5 separate regions of the Homo sapiens genome follow, and regions 2, 3, 4 and 5 are each reported to be linked to region 1. The links are microRNA targets in miRTarBase. Many come from high-throughput screens and were not tested one by one. Region 1 holds a microRNA gene; each other region holds the end of a gene's coding sequence.

Region 1 (4,226 bases):
GTGGCACAATCTCGGCTCACTGCAACCTCCGCCTCCCAGGTTCAAGAGATTCTCCTGTCTCAGCCTCCTGAGTAGCTTGGATTACAGGCATGTGCCACCACTCCCAGCTAATTTTGTATTTTTAGTAGAGACGGGGTTTCGCCATGTTGGCCAGGCTGGTCTCAAACTCCTGACCTGAAGCAATCCGCCTGCCTCAGCCTCCCAAAGCTCTGGGATTACAGGCGTGAGCCACCATGCCTGGCTGTTGTACTTTCAGAGCCCAAGGTAAGCAGCAGGAAAAGCCCAGGGGGCTCCAAACCATAGTCCAGAGGTTGTGGGACATGGCCCCCACATCCCTAGGGTGGGTACCCAGAGCCAGCTGAGTTCTTCCTCAGCCCTTTGCTCAGGGCCCCCGATGTGCTGGAATAAGGGTAACAGATTCCTCAGTCTAATGGCCTGGCTCATCTTGCCAGGCCCTGCCTCCTGCTCAGCTGCCTTGAGTCCTTACTGGGACATGCTGCTTTTTCCACCCAGGGCCTCCCCTACAGAAACCCCCTAATCCACTGTTCTCTTCAGGGTTTGAATCAGGCTACACAGAGATAGGCCGTTCATGTGTGGGCGAGGGTCCCTAATCATCCCCAGGAGCCAGCACCAGACCAGGCTCTGCCAGCCTTCACATGGCTCTGAAGTGCTGTTAGGTGATAACGTACAGTGAGGGGTGTGTGGGCAGAGGAGGGTTTTATTCTGGACATGGGTGGCTGGGTGGTCAGTCCCCCAGCAAGATAGAGGCCTCACGCACATGCTGCCGGACCACTCGATCTAAGAGGGTGTGCACATCTCGGGCAGCCTGGGCAGCAGCCTCCAACACCCGCTCCAGGTGGTCCTCGTGCAGCCGGGCATCCATCTCAAGCAGCGCAATCTGTCCTGAGGCTGGCAGCAGGGCCAGGGCCAGCTGGGGGCCACCAGCTGCTTCCTCCACATGGCTGAGGTCCGCCAGGGCTGTGCCGTCCACGAAGCCAGCTGAGCACGCACACACAAAGTCTCTCATGGGTATCCCGGCATCCAGCACTGCCAGCGTGGCTGCATTCACACAAGCTGCATAGGTCCCACCATCTGCCTGTAGCACCTGCAGGGAACCCAGGGTGTCAGTCTATCAGACTCCCTCCCCAACCCCATCACACCCTTCCCTCCCTGGATTGACGGCTGCAGCTGGCTCACCTGCACATAGATATCAATCTGGGAGCGTGGGTGCAGCTGTGTGAGGATGGCTGCTTCGAAAGTCTGGCGGAGCTGCAGGCCCATCTCACAGGACTTACGGTCCCCATGTGGCCGTCGCTTGCGCTCACCTGTGCTGAAGGTCGCTGAACTATATTGACAGTTCACTAGGGCCCTGTCCGGCAGGGCTCGAGCCCGGGAGCCCCGGATCTGGAAGAGGACAGACACATGAGCCAGGCCCACTCCTTCCAGCTCACACTCCACTGTCCTCTGTGGGTCTGCCTCTCCCTCCACTTTCAATGCCTCAGCAAGGGGCAACTGCGTTACCTCCAAAACAAAGCCCCCTGTTTTGCGCTCTCTGTCTTGCATGTGTCGCCCTCTGGCACCTTTTAATTGGCTTCCTTGTGTCCATCCTTGCCCCATTCCCTGCCAACCCAAGTTTACAAACATCAACGCTGCTTCTGTCTCACCTACACACTCAAATCCTAACTACCTTACAAAGGTTTCACATTACATATGAAATAAGATCCCAAATCATTTCCCTACTCTACAAAACCCTAAGTCCTCACCTCCCCGGGAACCCTCAACCTGATTTGGAGTTATCCCCTCTTTCCCCACCAGCAGTCTTTCTGCTCTGCATAAGTGCCTTGCTTGTTTTCACCACCGTGGTCTTCGCCCTTCTGGTTCCCTCCGCCTGGAAAGCAGAGCTCCCACACTCATGCGCTAAGCAAACACTCTTTCAATACCTTCGCTGGCCAGGCAGTTACAGCGCTGGAAGCACAGTAATGAAACCAGATAGTTTTATGTAAAGTTCCTTTCTTTAGGAAGCTTATGTTCCAGCGAGGAAACAAAGGGGAAAATGCTTAAGCAAAATAGGCATTTGAGATTGTAGGTGCACAAAACAAAGGGTTTATTGTAGGGCGAGAAGTACCGCGTGGATAATAAGGTCGTCTGGGAAGGAGTGACGTCGGAGTAGAGCTGAAAGGAGAGGGAGCGAGTGGGGGAGTGCCTAGCACGTTGAAGAGCCGCAAAGAGGAAGGAGGGCGCAGGGACAGAGGCCGATGAGAAAGGCAGGACCACCGCGCAGCACACTAAGGACTTGCGTTTACTCCGAGTGAGATGCGGTGCTGAGCATCGGCTGTGTAGACTGAGGCGCGCCGGCCGTTGCCCCTCAAGTCCCCGAGCCAGCGCTCAGCCCGGCTGCCCCGCAGCTCCCACGGCCACACGATTCCCCATCCCGCGCGCCCACTCGCCTCGTGCGGGCCGTAGACCACAGCCAGTGCCTTGGTGTTGCCCTGCTCAATGTAGGCCGAGCCGTCAGCCTGCGCGAACACGCCCATCCGCGCCTGGATCTTGCGCAGCTCCCCGGCGCGCCGCCCGTCCACCCGGTAGCCCTGGTCCGACAAGAGCTCCAGCCCCGCCATGCTGCCCGGCCGCCAGGTCCGCTCTCTGCCTACTTCTCTGAGCCGCGGGAGAACTACAGCTCCCGGCGGCTCCGACCGCCCGGAATCTACGGTTTCCGGAGGTCCGCCATCACTTCCGGTTCCGGGGAACTACAGCTCTCCGCGGCCCTGACCTCCGTGGATCTGCGGTTTCCGGCGTTCCGCTGTCACTTCCTGTCCTGGTGAACTGGAGTTCACCGCGGCCCCGACCTCCCCGGATCTACGGTTTCCGGCGGTCCGGCTCTACTTCTGTCTCCGGGGAACTGCGGCGGCGCTATCGGGGAAGCAGCGGCTGGGCCCGCAGCCGTTCCCGGAGCTGTGCCACGGGTGCCAGGAGGTGGGCGCCCGCCGAAGGAGGAATTGCCCAGTCACGCCCTCGTGACCAGTGGTGCCTGCATTCAGCCCTTCCCCGCGCCCCAAGTGTGAAAGTGGAAGGATGAACCCAGTGGGGTGCGACACTGACAGGAGAAGGCATTGAGCGGTCCTAGGAAAGTGACCAGGCTGGTGTCCCAGGATGGTCCACACCTGGCACCTCTCCAGTCCTCTCATGCCCTCCCTTTACACCGAGCTTCCACACTGCAGTCAGGTGGGCCTCCCTTTTCCCTTTGAGGATGCAGATTTCCTCATCCTTTCCAGAGAGGGGTTGTATGTCTGTTTATCTCTTGCCACTTAACCTCAGCGGCTTCAAATAATAAAAATCATTCTATTATTATGTGCTGCAATCTGGGGTTATCTAGGCTCAGCTAGATAGTTTGCACTTAGGATCTCTCCTACAGTTGCTGCCAGATGGTAGCTGGGGCTGCAGCCATCCTAAAGCTTTCTCCCTCACATCTTTGGTGGCTGATGCTGGTGGCGGGCCAGGACCTCATCTGTGCCTGTCAGGCAGCACACCTACATGTGGCTTCTCCATGCAACCAGGGCTTCCTTGCAGTATGGCAACTGGGTTCCAAGGGTAGCCTTCCAGGACAACAAGGTGGACAACATGTGCATGGTATTTTTAGGACCTAACCTCAGAAGTCACATAGTGTCCCTCCTGCCACACTCTGTGGGTCAAGGCAGTCAGACAGATCTGCCCAGGCTTAAGGGATGAGGACAGGGACCCCACCCTTCAGTGGGAGGAGTGTCAATATTAGACTGTAGGAAGAGCAGGCGGGCTAGGGAAATGTGGTCTGCTGCAGGGGCCCAAGTTCAGTTGTCACAGCATCCCCTCCAAGGTGGTTAAGCTCTCCTGAAAGACTGAGGCATGAGAGTGAGTGAGCAAGCCACAACCCTGCTGCTGCAGCTGGTCTGAGGCCATGATGGGTCACCACCCTCTGCCACTTGCCACCCCGGATTCCCCACCCTCTGCTCTACAGCCACTCTGCTTATTGTGGAGCCCTTTTCCCCTTTCAGTCTGAGCTCTTACTGTCCCTGTTCTTACTGAGTCATCGTTTTTTTCGTTTGTTTCTTTGTTTTGTTTTGTTTTTTGAGATGGAGTCTTACTCTGCACCCAGGCTAGAGTGCCGTGGCACAATGTCAGCGCACTGCACCCTCCACCTCCAGGGTTCAAGTGATTCTTCTATCTCAGCCTCCCAAGTAGCTGGGAAGGTG
Region 2 (4,226 bases), not on the chromosome of region 1:
CTTTTCTAAAACAAGTGGCATGAAGGATTTTATAGTATTGATATTGATATCTGATAAATTTAGTTCTTTCATTATGGAGTCAAGAAATCATCACTAGTACAGATACTATTCAGAAATAAATGGTATACCTTCTTTTATGACTTGAACTCATGAAAGAATGGTAAAAGTATGTTTGATTTTACTTTATATGAAAGTACTCAAGCTATTACAACCATATCCATTGTGTCTTATACACAATGGAAAATATAGTATTTTCTATAATTGAATCCAGAGGTTTCTAAATTGGCAGATAAAATAGTACCTGTATTTAGATATTCTATTTGAAACATGCTTTAATCTTAGGAAAACAGAGGCAGAAAGCACCTAAATTAGGTGCAATCCTGTCTGCTCCTAATTTAGAAAATAAACCAATTTATTGGCTATTCTTTCTCAAGTGATCCACATTGAGAGATGCTAGGTCTTTATCAAGATCAATTTCAAAATTTTTTTTTTTTTTGAGACGGAGTCTTGCTCTCTCGCCCAGGCTGGAGTGCAGTGGCGCGATCTCAGCTCACTGCAACCTCTGCCTCCTGGGTTCAAGTGATTCTCCTGCCTCAGTCTCCCAGGTAGCTGGGACTACAGGCGCCCGCCACCACACCTGGCTAATTTTTTGTATTTTTAGTAGAGATGGGGTTTCACCATGTTAGCCAGGATGGTCTCGATCTCCTGACCTCGTGATCCACCCGCCTCGGCCTCCCGAAGTGCTGGGATTACAGGCGTGAGCCACCGCGCCCAGGCCAATTTCAATTTTTAACAACTGTCACTACAAGAAAGTCAAGAAAATAGAAATTAGTCCTCCCTCTTGTGTGACCTTGGGGAAATTCCTTAAGCATTGTCTTACTTTCCACAGCGCTATCCTCATCATACATATACTGTGAAGATAAAATATCTGTTGAAGATTCTTTGAGCACCTTGGGCCAGAAGAGCTACAGAAAGCCAAGGTATAGTTATTTTCATATCCACGACTTCATTTGCCTTTTCCCTTGTTGTAGCCTCTCTGGAAATTAAGCAAAGATGCCTATCACCTTCTGCTTAATAACCCTTCATGTACTTGAAATTGTTATTCTCCCCAGGTACCTCAAGCACATTTTTTAAAGAGGATTGCCTAAACTCTAAAACAGCAATCAAGGGCTATGAGTCAGCATTTCACCTAGACATAAAATCAAAATGGTTTAAAATAGGTAACATTATCTTTTTGAAATATGTACATACCTCTTTGGAGAAACTTTGAGACAACTGGAGTTTGCAAGTTTATGAATAGTTTATTACATTTCAGTAAGTGTATTGTGAATCAATAAAGCAAAAGTTAAGGACAATGAGCTCATTACCAAGCCAGTTATTGATTCTCTGGTTCCAAAATAGAACAGTACAGGAAGGGTATAGAGAAAATAGGATTTTTCATGATAAAAATTTTAAGCATCTTAGGAACACAGACCTAAAGAAACTATAAGACACAACGGAAATTTCAGCAGCTACTTAGGATGTTTATTTATTTACCTTTTTTTGCCAATTAGAATTAGTTATTTGGTTTTTACTCTTAAAAAAAAAAAGTATTTTCAACTCAAGTCAGAGGAGTTTGCCAAAACTGAATATTACCTCTTACTGACTTAATTATTCTTTCAATTTCTTGTATATCTTCCTCTCTTGCCTTTGAAAAGTTTACCTTACTAGCTGTCTATCTTATATCACTGTCGTAGCTCAGACTGCCCTAACAAAATACCATAGGACTGGGTGGTTTAAACACCAGAAATTTATTTCCTCACAGTTCTGGTGATTAGAAGTTCAAACTCAAGGTGTCAGCATGGTCTGTTTCTGGAGACTACTTTCTTTCTGGCTTATATGTTCCAGGATGGGATGGTTGGAGGAGCCCCATCTCCAGATACCATCACATTAATAAGGGCTTCAACATATAAATTTTGGGGACGGGAACATCTAGTCCAAAACATTCACTAACAGAAAAATTGACACTGGCTCCATATCATCAAGCAGATAATATGGAAATGAACAAGTCAATTTGTTTTCAAACTATTCTTATGGGAAGCTTCCCTTTTTCTCCCTTTTACAGCAATCTAATTCAATGGAAAAGGAACTTCTTAAACAATTTATGAACTAACACTAATTTCATGAACCAGTTCTTTAAAAAGCGAAGACAAAAAGTGAGACACATGATTTTGGTAAAAACTGAAAAATAGACCATTAACCCATTTATATAGTATGTTTAATAAAAACAACTTTTAAACCCTTATACTTTGTTCTTATATCAAGTAAAGATTCTTAAAGTAATGTAAAACATTTGAATGTCCCTGGAAAGTAATATAACACACAATAACCCTTCTATATTACATATATATCTATATGTATATGTATATGTTAGAGACTGGGTCTTGCTATTCTGCCCAGGCTGGTCGCAAACTCCTGGGCTCAAGTGATCCTCCCACCTCGGCCTCCCAAAGTGCTGGGATTATAGGCATGAGCCACCACATTTGGCCCTATATTACATTTTCATGCATATTATTAAAAGAAATGGTGACTTACATATGGAAATACAGAAAACTGAAATAGTAAACAAAATTAACAAAGTTATAATTGGGTTGTGCTGAAGTTTACCTAATTTTAATACAAATAGTTATTTTTATTACATGCTACACAAATTTGATGGTATAAGAAATGTGTTTTTCTTGTTTGCATGAATTTCTTCATTGCAAAATACTTAAAATGTACATAATTTTTAAAAAACAACTAAGAGGCCGGGCACGGTGGCTCATGCCTGTAGTCCCAGCACTTTGGGAGGCCGAGGTGGGCGGATCACGAGGTCAGGAGATCGAGACCATCCTGGCCAGCACGGTGAAACCCCATCTCTACTAAAAATACAAAAAAATTAGCTGGGCATGGTGGCATGCGCCTGTAATCCCAGCTACTTGGGAGGCTGAGGCAGGAGAATCGCTTGAATCCAGGAGGTGGAGGTTGCAGTGAGCCGAGATTGCGCCACTGCACTCCAGTCTGGCGACAGAGCAAGACTCCATCTCAAAAAAAAAACAAAAACAAAAAAACAATTAAGAACATTTCCTTAATGACTATGAAGTGAATAGACAGCATATTTCAAATTTTCAAGTAGAAGGGTAGAGGAATGTAGGACAAAAGGTGACTGAGATCCAGAGTTTAGGTGACTTGGCAAAGTCATCCAATTAGCAGGTGCAGAGTTATATATGAAACCCAAGATTTTCCTGTCTAAAAATGCTGAAGATTAGTATATTCAAGATTAAGGGGAAGAAAATCTAATTATACTTTAGATCATTTCATACCAGAAAACAGCTATAGAAACTAGTTTTTCATTTTCAAAACTCAATTAAGTGTGTGAATGGTCCGTTGGTGTCCAGCTTTAACACCTGCCTGTTCCCATAAGTGCCATGTTCCACTACAACCCTAGCTTCAGCACACTTGCTATTAGCAGCTACTTCTTTTTCACATAGAGTCACAAATTGAGAGTAAAGTTCAAACCCTTCTTCTTTTCCAGAGTTAGAGTGATATTGCATGTTTCTTCCTTTTAGTCTTCCTCCAAGGGTAGCTTGAGGGATAATAAGAATGTTGCCAGGTAGATCCAATATAGAGACATGCTTGCCATTTTCTGTCTCACTTAATTTCACATTTAACAGTGTATTAACTGGGTGAGGAAGAAAGGCAAAACATTTTAAAGTGAAAAACAAACATGAAGAAAACCATCAAGTTTTTAGTCAGCAAATCTCATGTTTAAAATTCAGTTTGTCAGCTCATGCCTCTAACCCAAAGTCTCTATTTAGATTTAAAATACTGCTTCACTAAGCTAAATAATCTAAGCATGAAAAATAAGGCAATTTTCATGCAGAAAATGGCATGATATTTTAAATCTGAATTGGCAGTTAAGATAACCTAACAATAAGTTCATCCAGAAAGGTCTAAAGAATTAACTGTACACTGGAACCTCAAATATTGTTCCCCTGGGGGAATACATGAGAAGATTTTACCTTCCTGTTCTTTTTATTTAGTAAGTAAATCCCACTGGAAAAATATGAGGATAACTCCTCCTCACACCAAATTCTGCTTGCTTGCTTGCTTGCTTTATTTATTTATGTATTTATTTAGAGACAGAGTCTCACTCTGTCGCCCAGGCTGGAGTGCAATGGCGTGATCTCTGCTCACTGCAACCTCTG
Region 3 (4,226 bases), not on the chromosome of region 1:
CGGCTTCCTCTGTGGATGGAACAAGGGACCTCCTCCCTAGCATGGCACATTGCCCTTATTTATATTCTGCTTTCCTTGTCGTACATAGCCTGGCAACCCATGCCACTGTCGCTGTTAACAGAGGAAGTTGGGGTTTATTTGTTCACTGCGGTTTTCTTTTGTTGTTTGTTTGTTTGTTTGTTTTAGACAGGGTCTCACTCTGCCACCCAGGCTAGAGTGCAGTGGTGTGATCTCGGCTCACTGCAGCTTCAGCCTCCTGGGCTCAGGGGATCCTCCTACTTCAGCCTCCTGAGTAGCTGGGACTATAGGGGAGTGCCACCACACCTGGCTGATTTTTGTATTTTTTGTAGAAATGTGGTTTCACCATGTTTCCCAGGCTGGTCTTGAACTCCTGGGCTCAAGCGATTCCAAAGTGCTGGGATTACAGGCATGAGCCACCATGCTCAGGATGGTCATTGTGTTTTCCGTGGGATAAACGCATTGGCATTAGGGGAAGGCTTAGATCGACAACACACCCGCACAAACACATCAGCTGTCATCTCTTTACCCTCAGCATTTCTCTGGAATGTCTAAGTTAAGCTTTAAGACGTTGGTCAGATCTTAGAGAACTGGCAGAAAGGAATTTCAATGAAACATTGGGTCAGATTGCAAATGAAAAAGCTTGAAATGTGGGGATGGCCACGTTTTAATAGGTTTTTGGTTTTTGTTTTTACATGAAAGGATTCTCATCGCTTTGGAAGGCACCTGAAAGAAGCAATGACTGACATCATCACTTTGTTTGGTCTCAGTTCTAATTCCAAAAAGTAATTCCACTGGAGCTGCTGGGAAGGAAAACGAGCTCTTCTGATGCAAACCAAATGAAAAATAGGCATTAATCCTGACCTTAGCTCGGGATGAAACACTGCTCTTAAAAAAACTCAGTTTTCCTTCCAGAAAATGTGGGTGTTTTTTTTTCCTAGAACAGTATCTCTCCCCTGTGAAGCATAACCCCACTACTTCCAGACTTGCCCTCCCTTGGGGGACATCTGATAAAGTCTCCCCTGATGTCTCCGCATCGGCTTGGATTTATTAAGGGATGCAAATCTTGTTGAGTTAATGAAGGAATTAGTAGGGTTGTGGCTTCACACACAGTGGAATGGAAATGGTGTGCTTTCTCAGTGGCAACCGAAGGCCTAGTGCTTAAGGGCATTTAGCATCATCCAAGCAGGGTAAACTTTTGTTTTGTTAAAAGAAAAATGTGTTATTCAAGTTGGTGTCCCCAGTTGTAGCTAACACATCTGGAATGCACTAACCAAAATGCTGTGCTTTGGAGACCTGCTTTTGTCACCGTGGGTAACCGTTCCCGTCTGGTCCAGTAGCCTGTGTTTGCCTCTCCACATTTGAAGCAAGCAGGATGCAAGGTCTTCAGTTTTACTGACCTTGTATGTCTTCAAGTCTTCACAACCCAGTGCCTTAAAAATGAAAGGCCCTAAATGTAAGGGAGATGGAGAGAAAGATTTATTTTGTAGAGTCTTTGGGTGGAATTGTGGGTATACTGTTCCCTTCACAATTGACTGAGTATGGATAACCGTACATAAGCATTTGCTACACCCCACCAGCCCCCTCCCCCTCAGAAACACCAGTTCCTTCCCAAGGGCAGCTGTGCCAGACTCCCCTCCCGGGACTGCCTTCTTGTCATCATAAGCAACAAAAGAAATAACAGGCACATGTCATAAAAGGGGAGCAAGGGCCGTGATGGTCAGATAATTCACTCAAGAATAAAACATGACACGTGCCTCAGGAGGATCTCTTTCCCAAAGTGACAGCAAGGAGGGCAGGGCATCGGCCACCAAGCGGGGACTAGCAAGTGAGGAAGGGGAGGGCAGCCCACCGTGGTGAGGAGAGAGTGGCTCCACGACCCCAAGGGATGGCCTTCTCCTCCCACCCGGTGAGGGGAAAGACTCACCAGAGGGTGATGGAGACAGTATGCCGGCTCACCTTGGTGACCAGCCAAGATGTCTCAAGTGACAGTGCTAGGTGTTCACCCAGCCTGTCCTTCAGATAGGAGTGCCTTCACGAAAGCGTCTCATGGACCACAAAGCAATTATGCACTGAGTCATCTTCAGTATTTAATGCAAAAATGAAGCATCATGGAATGAAATTCCCACTGTCTGTCATGACAAGCTTAGCTGTCCATTGTTTTAAATTGTGTATTTATTTTTTTGACCACTTGGTTCTAGTTGGGCCTGACTCCTTCAGAGTGCTGCACCCCGATAGTACAACAGCGATGGCTGAACTGTTGGAGTCGATGGAAGGTGCTTGCCGGAGAACACGTGCCTTTTTTTTTTTTTTTTTTTTTGAGATGGAGTTTCACTCTTGTTGCCCAGGCTGGAGTGCAGTGGTGCAATCTCGGCTCACTGCAGCATCTGCCTTGCAGGTTCAAGCGATTCTCCTGTCTCAGCCTCCCAAGTAGCTGGGATTACACGCCCAACACCATGCCCTGCTAATTTTTGTATTTTTAGTAGAGACGGGGTTTCATCATATTGGTCAGGCTGGTCTCGAACTCCTGACCTCAGGTGATCCACCTGCCTCAGCCTCCCAAAGTGCTGGGATTACAGGCATGAGCCACCATGCGCGGCCCACATGCATGTTTTATGTATGTATACTTCATGATGTAAAAATCCCACCTTTATGGGCCAAAGATTTTTTTTCTCCTGAAAGCAAGAAAAAATGAAAACAAAAGACAAAAAAAAAAAAAAAAGCGTCCAGGCGCGGTGGCTCATGCGTGTAATCCCAGCACTTTGGGAGGCCAAGGCGGGCGGATCACGAGGTCAGGAGATGGAGACCATCCTGGCTAACACGGTGAAACCCCGTCTCTACTAAAAATTCAAAAAATGAGCCGGGCGTGGTGGCGGGCGCCTGTAGTCCCAGCTACTCAGGAGGCTGAGGCAGGAGAATGGCGTGAACCCGGGAGGCGGAGCTTGCAGTGAGCCGAGATCGCTCCACTGCACTCCAGCCTGGGCGACAGAGCGAGACTCCGTCTAAAAAAAAAAGCAAAAACAAACCAACAACAAAAGCCCCTGACTGTCCGTCAAGCAGGCAGCGGGGATGTAGCTCTCTCTGCCCTGGGCAAGAATAGCACTTCCCGTTAAAAGCCAGCAGCCGGCGTCAGTCCCTATCAGAGCCAGCTAGATCATGCACTGTTGACCACTGAGCAATCTGTGTTACACTAGAGTTCACAGGGCATTTTGAGTGTAGACGTGAGTGCTTAAACATATTTGGGTTTCTCTCTCAGGTTTTAAATGTTTCAAATGTAATTGTTGCTCATCAGTGCAGTTATCAATGCAATTTTATATTCCTTGAGGGGAGAAAGAGGGGTCTTATTGTACATGTCCAAGGGGGGTGATAAGAGTATTATCTGTTTAATTTAATTGGAACAAACCATTGTCTTAACGCAGCCATGGTTTGAATTTGTTATCTTGGGCTGACCGGTGCATGTAAATACAGTATGCTCTTTGGATGTAAATCTTAGAAATGCAGTGTGAATGTAGGTTATCATTAATAAAACATTAACCCCAGTCTACTACAAGATTTGTTTCTGTCTCTTTTGTTATATTAAGGGGATTATAAGTCAAGGACCAAGTTCAGATACTTGAGACAAAGTGGAAAGTCTCAGCATATGGAAACAAGGCCTTGGAGGAGACCATGGACATCACCAAGTTCATGTGCTGGGCTGGAAAGAAAAGCCTGTTGATTTTCACTTGCTGTGCATTTATTCATCCATTCCATTGCCTCAATGCTGAGAACAGTGCCTGACACATAAAAGATGCTCAATAAATATGTTAAAAGTAATGCATGAATTCCATTTTTCTGTTTTTCTTGAGCACCTGTATTAGGCCATTCTCACATTGCTGTAAAGAAATAGCTGAGACTGGGTAATTTATAAGAGGTTTAATTGGCTCTCAGTTCTGCAGGCTATACAGGAAGCATGGAGGCATCTGCTTCTGGGGAGGCCTCAAACAGCTTTTTACTCATGGTGGAAGGCAAAGGGGGAGCAGGCATTCTACATGGTGAAAGGAGACAGAGAGAGAAAGAGAGGAGGTGCTCTCTTACACATTTGCAAACAACCAGATCTGAGAGAGAGAGAGGAGGTGCTCTCTTACACACTTGCGAACAACCAGATCTCACAGGAACTCACGCACTCTATGGTGAGGACAGTAGCAAGAGGGATGGTGCTGTTCATGAGA
Region 4 (4,226 bases), not on the chromosome of region 1:
ACTTGGAAAATAATGTAAGAAGTAAAAAAAAAAAAAAAAAAATGTATTTTAAAATCTGTATCATTGTTAACAGTATCCCAAAGCATTTTATCATAAGTATATCCTAAGACAAGTGTTCTTATCTATGTGTGGAAATTGATTTAATTTAAAGTGATTCTTCAGCCCTCTGAAAGGATATATACCACATGAAGTTTAAATGAGGTAATAGCATATGAACTCAACTGTGCTTATGGGTACCTTATGCTATTATGTGGTATTAACCAAAAGTTTTTCAGGTGTTAAATAGTAAACTCTACTAAAACTTTGTGGGTTTTCTAGACTAAAACAGTGTGGGTTAAATTTTATATTTGGATTATCAGTAAATCTAACAGCATTTATAATGCTTTGAACAAAATTTGAAGACATACTATAGAAGCTGAAGTAGGTGGAATTAAAACTATCTTCTACTCTGCTGTTAAAGAAAAGCATTGCATCGAAAACTCTAAAAGGACTCATCACTTTCTTGGGATTGAGATACGTAATCCTATTAGAATTCAGTCCAGATAATACAAAAGCAACTGAAGAACTTAAGTGTAGATTTCTGTGCCCCACCTATTGAAACAGAATCTATGGGGATGAGCATTAGTATGAGATCCTGTAGGTGATTTGAAGGAGGTGTTTTTCCCTATAAAGAGGTAATCTTTTTACTTTTAATCTATTTACTGTAGACAGTAACTGTGAAAAAAAAATCATTTTGGATACCTCAAACCAATTAATAGTGGACTTAGTTTATTTTATTCTGGCTTAGTTGAGAATACTTTTGAATTTCTGTTGAGTATATGAAAATCATATTAAAATGATTCAAAACATTTTCTTTCCACAGAACCACATATTCTTCTCTTTAGACGACCTCTTCCAAAAGATCAACAAAAATGAAGTTTATCTGGGGATCGTCAAATCTTTTTCAAATTTAATGTATATGTGTATATAAGGTAGTATTCAGTGAATACTTGAGAAATGTACAAATCTTTCATCCATACCTGTGCATGAGCTGTATTCTTCACAGCAACAGAGCTCAGTTAAATGCAACTGCAAGTAGGTTACTGTAAGATGTTTAAGATAAAAGTTCTTCCAGTCAGTTTTTCTCTTAAGTGCCTGTTTGAGTTTACTGAAACAGTTTACTTTTGTTCAATAAAGTTTGTATGTTGCATTTATCACTGTTTCAAGTTTTTGAGGTATATTTTCTTAATTTGTGACTATTGAAATTTGTGACTATTGAAATTGATTTCAGTGTTATAGTTTTAGCTCTGAGGAAGTTAACTTACCTTAAAGATGATGTTAAATGAGTTTAAAATAGTGCGGTATGATCTGGATACCATTTAATTCACTTAATGAAGAAATTAATTACCAGGGATATGTTTAAACTAAAGCCAAAGTAGATTTTACCTCTTGAATTCCTGGAGAATTGTCTAGAACAGGAAAGCCCAAATTAATACTATCTGGGCTACTTCACTGGCCACTGGTGGTCTTGGGAGAAACCTCTTTTTTATCCTCTTCTACATTTCCAAAGTAGGGATAATGTTTCCTATAAAGTATCACCACATTTTTAAAAGTTCAAAAACACTGTAAAACACCTTTGCCTTTTTAGCTGCTAGGAAAGTGTTTTGGAGTTATTCTAATTAATTGCTATGCTATAGAAACATCTTAAATGAGCAGCCAGCATACATCAGGTCCATTGGTTAAGAAAGGGTGTCTTTACACATGAGGGCAATAAATTTTGAAGGTTGTGATTAGCAGCATCCTAAAATCTACTGCCACTACCATAGGTTGTGTCCAGGGTAACCAACAGAAACATGACAAAATCAAGTAAACTTCATTACACTTCCGGGTAGACCCAATAGTGCTGAAAGGAAGGCGACAGCTACCCCTAAACTTCCAGCATAAATTCCTGCCAGACCAGACCCTAAGGATCACTTCTGCTAGAGGCTGTGTAGTGAACTGAGACCCACCAGGACAGAAATCTGAAAAAACTGGAGCTGCACCTGCCTTACTTGCTTGAAATACTTCGTATTCAATGGTAGAGTTAACGTCTGTGCAAGGGACAGAGGAAACCTACAATTTGCCTCAACCTAATCCCCATTCCTCAAATAGCCTGTTTTGCTGACATTTTCTGTTCCTTAAATCCACTTGCACTTTCCTCCAAGCCTTTGAGTGAGAGGAAAGTTCCTCCTCCATCTATTGAAATCCACTCTGCATTCTTCCCTGTACTTTTGGTCAACCTCCTATCCCTGCCGCACTTTATACATTTCTCTCAATATTTAACGAATTTGCTCTGTGTAGAACTTTTTTTTTCTCGTGAAAATTATACTATTCCATCTCTTGACCATATCTTAGCACTTTTTTTAATTTTTGAAAGAAACCGAGCGATTTTTAAATTATTTTCTGTGGCTACTTCCAAACTTAAGGTTTCTGGAAATTTAGGATACCATCAAGAGTCTTGTAGGCTTTCCAGGTTTGTAGGACCTACAGGGTATGCAATTCCTGTAAGTCACCAATCTTGGGGAAATTTTAGGGAAATGCAGTGGCGGGGGTGAGAGTAATCTCGGCCTCCTCAGTTTCCTTATTAGTAAATCTTTCTCTTCAGGTGACTGCTCAAAGGTCACCTCAGCGAGAGGCCTTTCCAGACTACCCCATCCCGTCCTAACGCTAGACTCGTGAGGCCCAGGGGAGAAAAGTAAATCACGGCCTAACTCTTGTTTATAGTCGCTACTGCCTTGGTGGAGACTATCTCCGATATCCCAGCACTAAAAGGCAGATCCAAGACTCCCGCAAGCTACGGTGGGTCCCCAGCCCAGAGGACTCCTGGGGGTCCCCATTTTCCGCAAGCGCCCCACTGCCTCCACGTGCTGCCCGCGCAGGTCCAGTGCCGCCGCCGCGTACTTCCGGCCGGAAGAAAGGGCGGGCTCTGTCGCTTTGCTGTGACGCACTTCCTGGCGTCGCCTGCGGGGGCGGAAACGCTTTGTCTGTCCGGCAAGCCGACGGCCCGCTGCTGGCCTCCGTGACGCGGCCTCCTCCGCGCCTCGCGGCATGGCGTCGGAGGGGCCGCGGGAGCCCGAAAGCGAGGTAAGGGCCGACGGGGGCTCTCTCGGCAGCCTCAGTCCGTCCGCCTGCCTCGCACTGGGGGCTCGGCCGGGCGGTGACGGGGCTGGTCCAGCGGGCGTGGGTCGGATGCTGGTGACGGCACGGGAGCGCCCTACCGGGTGGCCGCGATCTTCGCGCCCCGCCTCGGGTCCGCCTTGGGGTGGCGGTCAGCGGCTACAGACCCCGCCCACAGTTAGCGCCGCGTCTGTGGTGCGATGTCACCCAGCGCAGTGACTGCGGCCCAGCCCGGCGCTCCCCGCAGTCGGGGCGGGGGGACTCTGGCGAGCTTCCCGCGCTCTTGGGAACGGATAGATTGTTTTAAAGGATCCTGCGTTTTTCTGAACGTCATTCTCCGCTCTACGTACTCAGCATTACCACTAGATGGAGCCCTGGCGATCGCTTGCATCATTTTTAGACCCATAAAATTCTCGGTGAAAGTAAATCTCTTACTACGTCACTAAAAACTAAAGAAAGAAATCTTAGTGAATTGAAATTTCAAAGGCTCGTGGTGATAATATTTTCTAGCAAAGCAAGGTTTGGTATTTCAATAAAGCAAGACTTAGTGGTTCATGAGTAAAATGCATATGCTTTTGTGCAACTTTTTCAAGAAAATGTAATGGAAATAAACGTCTGCAGTGTGTTTTGGGTGCTGTAGTTAAACAGTCCACGTGTATTTGACTGCAGTAGTTGTACTGTGTGCAGTTCTATTATTTCTAAGTGAATCTGTGGTAAAAACACCCTTATTCCAAGATCTAAACTATATAATCTGTGTTGTTTTATTTCCACTTGAATTCGTTGTCATTTTTCACTTTTAATGTTTGAACTACTGCCTTTTCTACAAAAAAAAAAGCATTGGGGAGAAATCGTTAGCAAGCAGGTTCTTGTCTTTACGAGGCAGAAGTTTTTAAACAACATCGGGAACATTTCTGGGGCTATTAGGAACACCTCTTGGGTCTTTTTGTTTGTTTATATTTGCTTGATCTCTGAATGTTTGTGGCCAAAACCTCATATTTTTCCTCAGGGCATCAAGTTATCAGCAGATGTCAAACCATTTGTCCCCAGATTTGCCGGGCTCAATGTGGCATGGTTAGAGTCCTCAGAAGCAT
Region 5 (4,226 bases), not on the chromosome of region 1:
CAGTGCCAGCCCTCCTGGCCTGAGGCTTCAGCAGCTTTTCTCTTGGTGTTGAGGGCTGTGGGGTGGTTGTTTCTGGTTACTAAGGATAGAGACCAGCCATATCATCGTGGGCGCTCAGGGCTCGAGGGGGCAGGACACACAGCTGTGGATGAGACTCAGTTCCTCATGGGCCGACATTCTTGGGGAGTCACAGTGGGCTCATGGAGGTGGGGGCAGTTAGAGACTGTCACCCTGAGCAGCCTGGGGCAGAGCACCAGCCTGGGGACCTCTGGATCCTGGAAGGTACATCTCAGTCGTGTCCCTGCCTCATTGTGTGATCTTGAGCAACTCAACTCTGGGTCCTCTGGGCCTCAGTTGCCACATCTGTAAAATGGGATTCATATTCCCCGCCCTGTCCACCCACTGGGTTGTTCCAAGGGACACCCCGGAGGCCAAATGGAAGCAAAAGGCTTTGCAAACTGTAAAGTGCAGTCAGGGGAACCATGATGGGCTTTGTACACTGGTTTCAGGCTGCAGGGCCTGAGGCCATAGGCTTGAGTCAGGGTTGGGGGCAGGGGGTCCTGGTGACAGTTTGCTGGGATCAGCCTCTCCATTCTTCAGCATTTAAGGAATTCACCGCCTAGGGTTGGTCGGTCAGCAGGTTGGTGACCACACAGCCACACGTCAGCTTACCTGGTCTCTCACCCCACAGCCTGGGACTACGGCCAGGGCTTCGTGAATGAGGAGATGATCCGGGACCACCTTCCACCCCCAGAGGAGGAGCCGCTGGTGCTGATGTGTGGCCCCCCACCCATGATCCAGTACGCCTGCCTTCCCAACCTGGACCACGTGGGCCACCCCACGGAGCGCTGCTTCGTCTTCTGAGGGCCGGGCACGGTCACACGGCCACCCGCCCCGCGCACCCCACGCCCTGTTCACGCTCACCCAGTCACCTCCCCACATCGCACACTGGGGCCCCGGGTTCAGCCTGGCCTGCCCGTGCCCTGGTGAATCACCTGGCTGAGCAGTTCCCCTGGAGCCCCTTCGGGAGCAGGGCTGTGTCCCAGATGGGCCACGGCTGAGCCTTCAGAGTACGTCCTGCCTGGCACTTACTGGTCCTTACCAGAGACGCCCAGCCCCATCCCTGTCCTCATGACCCCTCGTCCACCCCCCACACACACTATAAGGCTGAGGGCTGCCAGCAGCCCCGTCTGCCCACCATTCCCGGCCGTGGACCATAGTCGGGATGTCAGCAGACACACATGGGCAGCCCAAAGCTGCAGGTGCCAGGGCCCACCCCAGCCTCGCCTGTCACCCCCACTCCCGCCTCAGGGCCAGGCCCAGGCCTCACCACCTGACGCTGCATGAGACATTGACACCAGAAAGCCCTCTTGGGGGCACTGCTCCCTACCCCAGGGCCCTGGCCAGCCGGGAGCTTGGCTCTCCTCTGGCTAGAGTGGGAAGAGGGGGCTGGCCATGGGGCCCTCCCAGAACCTCAGCATTTCCTTCCAGCCCATCCAAACACTGAGGCAGCCTTGGGGAACCCCGAGCTGGGGGGTTGGCAGCCCACTGCACCGCCTCAGGGTTTTGGGGTCCTGGGCTGGGGCCACCATCCCTGATGGCAGAACTCCCACAACCACATGTATTTATTCCTCTGTCCTAAACCGTCCCCTCCTTCCCTCACCCCCAGCACAGGGGGATTCTGAGCAGTGCCTCTTGTCTGAGGGACATATCAGTGACCTCGACGTTGCCTTTAGACTACAGTTGTGTTAGCCTCTTGCGTATTGGCTTTTTCAGAGTCATTTATGAGCAGAAAAAAAAAAAGTAAAACTTTGCTAATATTAACCCTTCTCTAGCTCCTCGAGGGTCTGTGACCTGCAACACAAGGGGTGGGGTCAGGAAAGGGCTGGGGAAGACCTAGCATTTTTTTTTTCTTTTTTTTTTTTTTTTGAGACGGAGTCTCCCTTTGTCACCCAGGCTGGAGTGGCATGATCTCAGCTCACTACAACCTCCACCTCTCGGGTTCAAGCGATTCTCCTGCCTCAGCCTCCCGAGTAGCTGGGACTAAAAGTGCCCACCACCACACCCAGCTAGTTTTTGTATTTTTTTTTTTTTTTTTTTGAGACGGAGTCTCGCTCTGTCGCCCAGGCTGGAGTGCAGTGGCGGGATCTCGGCTCACTGCAAGCTCCGCCTCCCGGGTTCACGCCATTCTCCTGCCTCAGCCTCCCAAGTAGCTGGGACTACAGGCGCCCGCCACTACGCCCGGCTAATTTTTTGTATTTTTAGTAGAGACGGGGTTTCACCGTTTTAGCCGGGATGGTCTCGATCTCCTGACCTCGTGATCCGCCCGCCTCGGCCTCCCAAAGTGCTGGGATTACAGGCGTGAGCCACTGCGCCCGGCTCCAGCATTTATTTCTGATGTATCTTTGTGGTAGAAAATTTGGAAAGTGCAGAGAAGTATACACAGGAAGAAAAATTCCCAACCCCCAGAGGCAAACCAGCTGAAACCACGCAACCCCAGTCACCCCAATGCACCGCGAGGCTGCTGCCTCCTGTCAGGGTCAGATGAGCCTCGAGGCTCAGGAAAGTCAGAGGATGCCATCTGCATGGTGGTAAATTACAGAGGTGATGAGGCAAGGTGGGTGTGGGGCTGTTCTTAAAACGGGGCAGCAGGAAGGCCCCAAGGAGATGGATTTGGGCTGGGACGGGAAGAGAGAGCTGGCCATGCTGGGGTGGGTGGGTGTTCAAATGGTGGAAACAGCAGACGCAAAGGCCCTGCCGTTGGAACCAGCTTGTGGAATAAACTTTCAGAAACAGATCGAAGAAGATAGGTGGCTGGAAGGGGCAGCAACGATGAGGCTGGAGAGGGAGGCGGGGCTAGGCTGGTGCTCCGGAGACTTGCTGGGTGGCCCTAGGAGCACAGTGAGGCCAGTGTGGCTGGAGGGGAGTGGGGAAGAAGAGGGGACGGGGCAGGTTCACAGGAAGGAGGGCCCAAGACCAACCTAGGGGACTAGGAGAGCCCTGTCTCCTCTCACTTCGCATTTTCCATTCTGTCTCTGGCCACCTCACTACCTACAGTGGCAGGAAAAGGAATCTCAGACCCAAAATGGCCTTCACACTGTGGCGGGGGACTGCTAGCAATGGACACGCGTTAGGTTTCATCCTCATTTCTGTCCCTGTCTGAGGCTGAAAGGCACAGGATTTGAACACAGGCCTGCCTGAGCCCACAAGAGGCTGCCTCCTGGGAAAGGGGACGTGGGAAAAGGGGATCAATTGGACCCGATTCCCACCCTCTCCAGGTCTGTTTCCCCATTCAGAAAATGGGAGAGGGCTCTAAGGCAGCGATTCTCCATACAGACTCGACACCTTTATTTATTATTTTTGGGACGGAGTCTCGCTCTGTCTCCCAGGCTGGAGTGCAGTGACATGATCTTGGCTCCCTGCAGCCTCTGCCTCCCAGGTTCAAGCGGTTCTATTGCCTCAGTCTCCGGAATACCTGGGGATTACAGGCGTGCACCACCACACCGGCTAATTTGTTTGTATTTTTAGTAGAGATGGGGTTTCACCATGTTGGTCAGACTGGTCTGAAACTCCTGACCTCAGGTGACCCACCCTCCTCGGCCTCCCAAAGTGCTGGGATCACAGGTGTGAGCCACCATGCCTGGCCAACACCTTTAAAATAACAGTTGTAACGGGCCCTTTACGCTGCAGAATTCACAGGCAGTATCACCTACCTATACGAAGAATTTTAAAAATCAACACAGCTCTAAATGAGTTGTAAAAGAACAAGAAAGGAGGCCGGGTGCTGTGTCTCATGCTTGTAATCCCAGCACTTTGGGAGGCCGAAGCAGGTGGATCACCTGAGGTCAGGAGTTCGAGACCAGCCTGGCCAACATTGTGAAACCCCCGTCTCTACTAAAAATACAAAAATTAGCCGGGCGTGGTGGCGTGCGCCTGTAATCCCAGCTACTCGGGTGGCTGAGACAGGAGAATCGCTTGAACCCGGGAGGCGGAGGCTGTGGTGAGCTGAGATTGTGCCACTGCACTCCAGCCTGGGCGACAGAGCGAGACACCGTCTCAAAAATAAAAATAAAATTGTCCTCCGCATCTGCCCTACACTGCCCAGCTGACCCCACTGGCCAGCCTGTCCTCCTCCCACCTCTTGCGCGTTCCTCCTGGCACGCCTGGAAGGGAGGAAAGGCTTAATGGTCCCGTTCTATGGGTGAGGAAAAGAGGTCTGGGAAGGA

What was found. Region 1 holds the annotated microRNA hsa-miR-6847-3p (GGCUCAUGUGUCUGUCCUCUUC, at 1,408-1,429, opposite strand). A microRNA usually pairs through its seed, bases 2 to 8, with sites in the 3' UTR of a target mRNA and lowers its output. Matches are read on the target gene's strand: a 7mer-m8 pairs with bases 2 to 8, a 7mer-A1 pairs with bases 2 to 7 and ends in A, and an 8mer does both.
Region 2: miRTarBase lists DTD2 as a target of hsa-miR-6847-3p. Seed matches in the 3' UTR shown: 7mer-m8 at 2,799-2,805.
Region 3: miRTarBase lists CPT1A as a target of hsa-miR-6847-3p. Seed matches in the 3' UTR shown: 7mer-m8 at 2,599-2,605.
Region 4: miRTarBase lists CKS2 as a target of hsa-miR-6847-3p. Seed matches in the 3' UTR shown: 7mer-m8 at 1,025-1,031.
Region 5: the mRNA of CYB5R3 is a reported target of hsa-miR-6847-3p. Seed matches in the 3' UTR shown: 7mer-A1 at 1,785-1,791.

What each region holds. Positions count from the first base shown.
Region 1 is chr8:144,077,121-144,081,346 of GRCh38, reverse strand. It overlaps MIR6847 (microRNA 6847), which reads right to left and starts at 1,473; the gene lies at 1,405-1,473. It overlaps EXOSC4 (exosome component 4), which reads right to left and starts at 2,675. Exons shown (of 3, transcript NM_019037.3): 1 at 2,448-2,675; 2 at 1,198-1,404; 3 at 699-1,105. The coding sequence starts at 2,618. The coding sequence ends at 746. LOC124902038 (a long non-coding RNA gene) reads left to right here. Exons shown (of 2, transcript XR_007061141.1): 2 at 1-3,348. RefSeq lists enhancers at 2,604-2,903, 2,914-2,963.
Region 2 is chr14:31,444,755-31,448,980 of GRCh38, forward strand. DTD2 (D-aminoacyl-tRNA deacylase 2) reads right to left here. Exons shown (of 3, transcript NM_080664.3): 3 at 1,282-3,700. The coding sequence ends at 3,375. It overlaps HEATR5A-DT (HEATR5A divergent transcript), which reads left to right. Exons shown (of 4, transcript NR_110045.1): 3 at 890-980. Among named protein-coding and RNA genes, the nearest start is that of DTD2, 11 kb to the right of the region's middle.
Region 3 is chr11:68,754,225-68,758,450 of GRCh38, reverse strand. CPT1A (carnitine palmitoyltransferase 1A) reads left to right here. Exons shown (of 19, transcript NM_001876.4): 19 at 721-3,568. The coding sequence ends at 807. Among named protein-coding and RNA genes, the nearest start is that of TESMIN, 4.8 kb to the right of the region's middle.
Region 4 is chr9:89,315,511-89,319,736 of GRCh38, forward strand. It overlaps CKS2 (CDC28 protein kinase regulatory subunit 2), which reads left to right. Exons shown (of 3, transcript NM_001827.3): 3 at 863-1,193. The coding sequence ends at 915. It overlaps SECISBP2 (SECIS binding protein 2), which reads left to right and starts at 2,990. Exons shown (of 17, transcript NM_024077.5): 1 at 2,990-3,102; 2 at 4,142-4,226. The coding sequence starts at 3,067. RefSeq lists an enhancer at 2,640-2,859 and a silencer at 3,030-3,349.
Region 5 is chr22:42,616,411-42,620,636 of GRCh38, reverse strand. It overlaps CYB5R3 (cytochrome b5 reductase 3), which reads left to right. Exons shown (of 9, transcript NM_000398.7): 9 at 692-2,797. The coding sequence ends at 864. Among named protein-coding and RNA genes, the nearest start is that of RNU12, 3.3 kb to the right of the region's middle.